Homo sapiens: one gene and its partner. The protein of the gene in region 1 interacts with the protein of each later gene in a pairwise test. Each region holds a gene or a part of one and is shown in the gene's direction. Other genes may lie near its edges.

Region 1 (3,088 bases):
TGCCCTTCCCCTGTTGTTTAGAAGATTTCCAGCAATAGAGAAGTGCTGACGACATATCTGGACCAAAGGAAGGCTTGATCATGGACACTTTCCTTTAAGAGGCTGGCTGGACTTAAACAAGGGCACAAATTTTTAGCTCTGTGACGACCAGCCAGTTACTTGGACATTTCCTTTGTAGTCCTGTGATGAGCAAAACGGGTTCATAACTAGTATTTCCCTTTAGGATTGCTGTGAGGATTCAAAGAATGAAAGAGATTAAAAAGGGACTGGTGTAGACTCAATGTCATGCAATAGTCAGGTATACTGAAGAGAAACAACTGCATGTCTTGTTTTTTAATTTTATTATTTTAGAGATGCTGACTTGCTATGTGGACTAGGCAGAACTCGAACTCCTGGGCTCAGGTGATCCTCCCGCCTCAGCCTCCTAAGTAGCTGGGACTACAGCTTCCCGCGACCTCACCCATCTTGCTTTTTAATTTAAAGCAGAGTCTGCATATCATCTGAAGTCATCTCTCTTTGGGGACATCCCACAGGTCCAGAACTGCCAGACGGTAGTGGGGTGGCCGGCTAGGCTGTGGGGAGCATGGAGATTTATCTGCAAAGGAGGACCTGGACAAATGTTCCCCCACATCCTCTCAGGCGAAGAGAATGGACGGGAGAGAGAGGCCGACCAGTGTTCCCCGTGTTGCTGTGTACGGAGGAGCCAGTCCGAGGGACCGCGGTGTGGACAGGGACAGGCAAGGCGGGGAAGGAGGAGAAACGAAAGCCACATTGGTGGCGGGTGCTCTGCACACGACTCGCTCCCTACCACACGCCCCCCGCTCCGCACACGACCGATCCGGGGACTGGAGCAGGAGGGCTGCACCGGGACTCCGGGACAGGCCCAGTTGAAAACGGCGGGGCGAGGGGGTGGGGTGGAGACGCCCGCGACGCCAAGGCTGGGGTCCCGGAAAGCGCGGGGAGGAGGGTGGAAGGCAAAGGCAACTTCGGGGAAACTGGGAAAGGCGGCCGGGACCTCGGGGACACTGCGTACCACCCGGCGCACAGCCCCTCCCGCGCAAACCCGAGCCAAAGGGGCGGTCGAGCGGCGCACTCGGAGCGGAGCTCAGGGGATGGTGCGCCCGGCACTTATGCTGGGCTCAGCCCAGCCCAGCCCAGGACCGCTGGCGGTGCGAACCCAGCCGGGCGGGTGCAAGCGCGGGGCAGGGCCTCTGCGCCCGGCCCCCTCCCCTGAGTAGAAAAGCAGCCGCAGGCTGTGGCGCTCCACCACGCCGTCCGGGTGGGCCTAGCAGTCGCTCCATTTATCGCTTGAGATCTCCAGCCTTACCGCGGCTCGAAATGGACCCCAACTGCTCCTGCACCACTGGTAAGAGAAGCCGACCCTGCGCCCTAGGAATCCCATTTCCCAGCCCCAGTACTGAGGGTCTCTGGGTTTGAGGAGGTCGCATTTAAGTTCTGAGCGGAAGGGAATTCCTTTACTTCCTTAGGTGCTTTCTTCCTGATCTCCCCTCTGAGAGCACTGCCCTCCCTCCTGGGCCTCTGGGTCAGAGTTAAGGATACTGAGGGTCAAGGCAGTCCCGCTCCACATCACCCAGTTGGTTAGGGTCCTGCTGGCTGGGCCCCAGTGTTCTCCTCCAGGCTCTGAGCAATCAGGGTGGACTGGGGGCTGGAGACATTTGAGTCTTCAGGGTTCAGCACAGAAGGTTCTGGCTGGCAATCTCAGTATTCCTGGGTTGGGTGTGCCCCTGGGACCTTCCTGGTAGGGTAAAACAGGAGGGTGCTTGCCCTTCCCAGCGTTAGTGGAGAGGACAGGGGCTTTCCCTGAGTGGGAAAGGAGCTCTGAGGGCTGGCCCTGCACAAAGGAGGGGGCACTGGAGACTCATTGACCCATTGCTGTACCTTCTTCATCTCACTCACTGCCCACTGCGTTTTTCTCTTCCTTGCAGGTGTCTCCTGCGCCTGCACCGGCTCCTGCACGTGCAAAGAGTGCAAATGCACCTCCTGCAAGAAGAGTGAGTGCGGGGCCATCTCCAGGAATCTGGGGCTGTGGCTGAGATTGGGAGGGAACCCAAGGCTGGCCCTGAGTGCATCCTTCTGGGGAACTGGGCTTTCTTTGCCCTCATTGCCCGTGTCATTCCCTCTCCAGGCTTTCTGCCCTAAATTCAGATGGGGCAGGACAGCATTTTTCTCTTGGGACACAAATCCCAACTGTAGCATCTATGGTTTCAGAACAGAGCTGTGCCAGACGTAAAAAGCTTCCTCTGGGTCTGGGTTCTGAGCTCCAGCCAGGCTTGCTATTGGGGCAGGGCGGTGCCCGGTCAAGTCTACTGCTACCTCTCTCTCCCCTTCTTCCCCAGGCTGCTGCTCCTGCTGCCCCGTGGGCTGTGCCAAGTGTGCCCACGGCTGTGTCTGCAAAGGGACGTTGGAGAACTGCAGCTGCTGTGCCTGATGTGGGAACAGCTCTTCTCCCAGATGTTAATAGAACAAGCTGCACAACCTGGATTTTTTTTCAATACGATACTGAGCCATTTGCTGCATTTCTTTTTATATTAAATATGTGAGTGACAATAAAACAATTTTGACTTGAATCTTACTCTGTTCTTCTTTGTGTGCCTTGGAAAAAATGGACTGGGTGGGGGTTAAACTGGGAGTTTAGAGACCAGTCTCTGGATGAAAATGTGAGTCACTAACAATGTGAACACCTTCAGGCCAGCCAGGTTACTCACTGAGTTCACCCTTCTGTAAAACGGTATTGCATTGTGCACACCATATGGGTGCGGGCCATACATGATCGCTTTTAGTGTGATTCCAAATGTGGTACAGAAACTTCATCCCTTATTTTTATTTTCTGATTTTCCTCCACAACTTGAGATCCACATTGGATTTTAGGCTTAAAAGTGGCTATAGTGCTGGAACCCAACTTCTTAGTTTCTTGAATCCTACACGGGTGCTATGATTTAGATATTTTGTCACTGCCAAATCTCATGTTGAAATGTGTCCTCCACTATTGCAGGTGGGGTCTAGTGGGAGCTTTTGGGGCCATGAGGACAGATCCCTAAAGAATGGCTTGGTGCCCTCCCATGGTGAA
Region 2 (4,014 bases), on another chromosome or scaffold:
AGACTGTAATCCCAGCTACTCAGGAGGCTGAGGCAGGAGAATCGCTAGAACCCGGGAGGCAGAGGTTGCAGTGAGCCAAGAATGCACCACACTGTACTCCAGCCTGGGTGACAGAGCAAGACTCCATCTCAAAAAATAGAAAATAGGCTGGGCGTGGTGGCTCACGCCTGTAATCCCAGCACTTTAGGAGGCCGAGGTGCGCGGATCATGAGGTCAGGAGATCGAGACTAGCCTGACTAACATAGTAAAACCCCGTCTCTGCTAAAAATACAAAAAAAAAAAAAAAAAAAAAAAGCCGGGTGTGGTGGTGTGCACCTGTAATCTCAGCTACTCGGGAGGCTGAGACAGGAGAATCACTTGAACCCAGGAGGCAGAGGTTGCAGTGAGCCAAGATTGTGCCACTGCACCCTAGCCTGGGTGACAGAGCAAGACTCCGTCTCAAAAAAATAAAAATAAATAAAATAAAATAAAATAAAATATTAAATAAAAGTATCTTAGCCCAACAAGGTAGGCATTATTATTGTGCCCATTTTACAGATGAAGAAGCCAAGGCACAAAAAGGTGAAGTAATAGGCTTATGGCCCCACAACTAGCAAGTTGCAGAGCCAGGATTTGAACAGAGGCAGTGAACCCAGAGCTCCAGCCACAGCCGCCCAGGACTCAGTCTCCCCCTACAGCCCGGGAGCCTCTGGAGGGTCCAAAGTCTAACTCTGTCTTTGGGTCCCCAGGTTCATCCAGCACAGATGCCTAAGAAGGATTTTCCCAGTTCAAGTGACTTGAGGTTGGCCCTGCCACTGACCTAGAGCGTGTCCCTTCCTCTCTGCCAGCCTCAGTATCCCCATCTGCCAAATTGGGGGGACCTTGGCACCCTACTGGCTTCACAGATCCCATGAGATAAGGGGTGCAGGAAAACTACCTTTCAAGGGGCAAAGGTCTGGCTGCCAGGAGCCACTCCCTGAGAACAGAGGAGGACAGATCTAGCAGCGGAACAGGTTCGCGTCTATAAATCCCCAGCCAGAGACCAGCGCAGGCAGCCCTGGGTGGGACACCTGGCTGCAGCTGCCTTCCGTTGCTGTGTGATTCTAAGGCTCACTGGCGGCCTCTGGGCTTCCCCTTGTCCTGTCTATGGAATGACGGGAGGTCGGTTTCGATTCCTCCACGATTCTGTGAAGGGCTGAGCTTTCCTGGGGAGGTGAAAAGGGGCTTCCCTGAGGACCCAGCATTACTGTACCTCCTCACTTAGGAAGCAGGGGTGAATCTGGGATTTTGGGTGGTCACTGTGGGAGGACAGGGCTGGGGTACAGAGCAAGAGGCTGCCTGGGTTCAGATCAGCCTCTTTGCATCTTTTTGTTGTTGTTGTTGTTTGTTTTTGAGACAGTCTCGCTCTGTTGTCCAGGCTGGAGTGCAGTGACGCAATCTCAGCTCACTGCAACCTCTGCCTCCTGAGTTCAAGCGATTCTCCTGCCTCAGCCTCCCGAGTAGCTGGGATTACAGGTGCCCACCACGATACCCAGCTAATTTTTGTATTTTTAGTAGAGACGGGGTTTCGCCATGTTGGCCAGGCTGGTCTCGAACTCCTGACCTCAAGTGATCTGCCCACCTCAGCCTCCCAAAGTGCTGGGATTACAGGCGTGAGCCACCAGGCCTGGCCACCTCTTTGTATCTTTAAACACCAGCCAGTGACCTCCAGGACCCTGGGGTGGACTTCAGGGAGGGAACACACCCCAATTTGTTTGGAAATTTGGGCATCCACTTTTTCCTGGTGCTAAGACCCCTTTCTAATGGGTTCCCAAAAAGACTTCATAATCCCTGGTCTAAATGTTTTTCGGGAGGCATTTGGCTTAGTTGGAGGATACCCTGATGCTGGGACCCCAACATTAGAGGTTGAAAGGATGGTAGCCCAGAGGAGAAGATGAGGTTTGGGGTTTAGTGCCCCAGCAAGTCAGAGCCCAGGGTTTCCCAGGACGGAGGAAGACGGAAGGGTCACAGGAGGGACAGGGTTGGGGAATCTGTCTTAAAAGATGAAAAGTTGTGACCACTTTCTGGACCTTACCTTTCTCTTTCTCTTTCTCTTCCTTCCACAGATGAATTGGGTGAGTATCACAGGGCAGGTTTGCGGGGAGGCTGAGGGACCCAAGTGCCTACAGAAGGGGGTCTTGGCCTTCCTTGTTCAGTGGGGGTGGGGGAGAGGTGTCACTGTGTGACTTCCAGGACTGTGGAGGGATTTGAACGAAGTCATGCTCCTAAGGTACTTAGCAGTGCTTGACACTTGGAAAACACTCAGCACGCCGGGGGCTGTGTGACTCACACCTGTAATCCTGGCACTTTGGGAGGCAGAGGCAGGAGGACTGCTTGAGGCCAGGAGTTCAGGACTAGCCTGGGTAACATAGTGAGACCCCCATCTCTACACAAAATTTTTAAAAATTAGCCGGGCATGGTGGTGCGCACCTGTAGTCCCAGCTGCTCAGGAGGCTGAAGTGGGAGGATCACCTGAGCCTGGGAGGTTGCCTTGGAAGCCGAGGCTGCAGTGAGCTATGATTGCACCACTGCACTGCAGCCTGGGCGGCAGAGCAAGACCGTGTCTCAAAAAGAAAACCAATTAAAATAAAATAATGTTATTAATCCCCTAGTGAGTACAGACAGACACTGTTTTAGGCCCTGGGGATTTAGCCATGAACAAAACCAAGTCCCTGCCCTCGCAGAGCTGATAGCCCGGTGTGGGAGACAGAGGAAAATGAACAGATGAGCAAGATAATGTTAGCCTGGGCTGAGAGCTGTGAAAGAAATAAACAGGACGAGGGAGAGATGGCCTGGAGAAGACACATTAGGTTAGGCTTTTCTGAAGAGATAACATACGAGCTGAGACCAGGAGGAGAAGCAGCCAGCATGGGTTGAATGGGGGACCGTGTGGAACAGGCAGTTGGAGGAGCAAGTTCTTTCTTATTTATTTATTTAAGTTATTTTTTGAGACAGAGTCTCGCTCTGTCGCCCAGGCTGGAGTGCAGTGGTGCTGTCTCAGCTCACTGCAACCTCCACCTCCCAGGTTCAAGCAATTCTCCTGCCTCAGCCTCCCGAGTAGCTGGGAGTACAGGCATGCACCAACATACCTGGCTCATTTTTGTATTTATTTATCTATTTATTTAGAGATGGAATTTCGCTCTTGTTGCCCAGGCTGGAGTGCAATGGCATGATCTTGGCTCACTGCAACCTCCACCTCCCAGGTTTAAGTGATTCTCCTGCCTCTGCCTCCCGAGTAGCTGGAACTGCAGGCACACATCACCATGCCCAATTTTTATATTTTTAGTGGAGATGGGGTTTCACCATGTTCGCCAGGCAGGTCTCAAACTCCTGACCTCAGGTGATCCGCCTGCCTCGGCCTCCCAAAGTGCTGGGATTACAGGCGTGAGCCACCATGCCCAGCCTATTTATTTATTTATTATTATTATTTTTTGAGATGGAGTCTTGCTCTGTTGCGCAGGATGGAGTGCAGTGACGCAATCTCGGCTCACTGCAACCTCCGCCTGACGGTTTCAAGCGATTCTCCTGCCTCAGCCTCCTGAGTTGCTGGGACTACAGGCACGTGCCACCATGCCTGGCTAATTTTTTGTATTTTTAGTAGAGACAGGGTTTCACTGTGTTAGCCAGGATGGTCTCGATCTCCTGACCTCATGATCCGCCCGCCTCGGCCTCCCGAAATGCTGGGATTACAGGCATGAGCCACCGCGCCCAGCCTATTATTTATTGAGAGACGGAGTCTCACTCTGTCGCCCAGGCTGGCGTGCAGTGTCACGATCTTGACTTACTGCAGTGTCCGCCTCCTGGGTTCAAGCTGTTCTCCTGCCTCAGCCTCCTGAGTAGCTGGGATTACAGACGTGGGAGACCATTCGGGCTAATTTTTGTAGAGACGGGGTTTCACTATGTTGGCCAGGCTGGTCTCGAACTCCTGACCTCAATTGATTCACCCACCTTGGCCTCCCAAGGTGTTGGGATTACAGGCGTGAGCCACCGCACCTG

Evidence for each region.
Region 2: the proteins of MT1M (region 1) and RELB interact in a two-hybrid assay, tested with the Homo sapiens proteins (one large-scale study listed by BioGRID and IntAct).

What each region holds. Positions count from the first base shown.
Region 1 is NC_000016.10:56,631,394-56,634,481, forward strand, and holds MT1M (metallothionein-1M), read left to right. Parts: upstream 1-1,265; 5' UTR 1,266-1,338; coding exon 1,339-1,366; intron 1,367-1,946; coding exon 1,947-2,012; intron 2,013-2,357; coding exon 2,358-2,449; 3' UTR 2,450-2,588; downstream 2,589-3,088. UniProt on the Homo sapiens protein: Metallothioneins have a high content of cysteine residues that bind various heavy metals; these proteins are transcriptionally regulated by both heavy metals and glucocorticoids.
Region 2 is NC_000019.10:45,007,730-45,011,743, forward strand, and holds part of RELB (transcription factor RelB), read left to right. Parts: intron 1-728; exon of another isoform or gene 729-781; intron 782-2,084; coding exon 2,085-2,093; intron 2,094-4,014.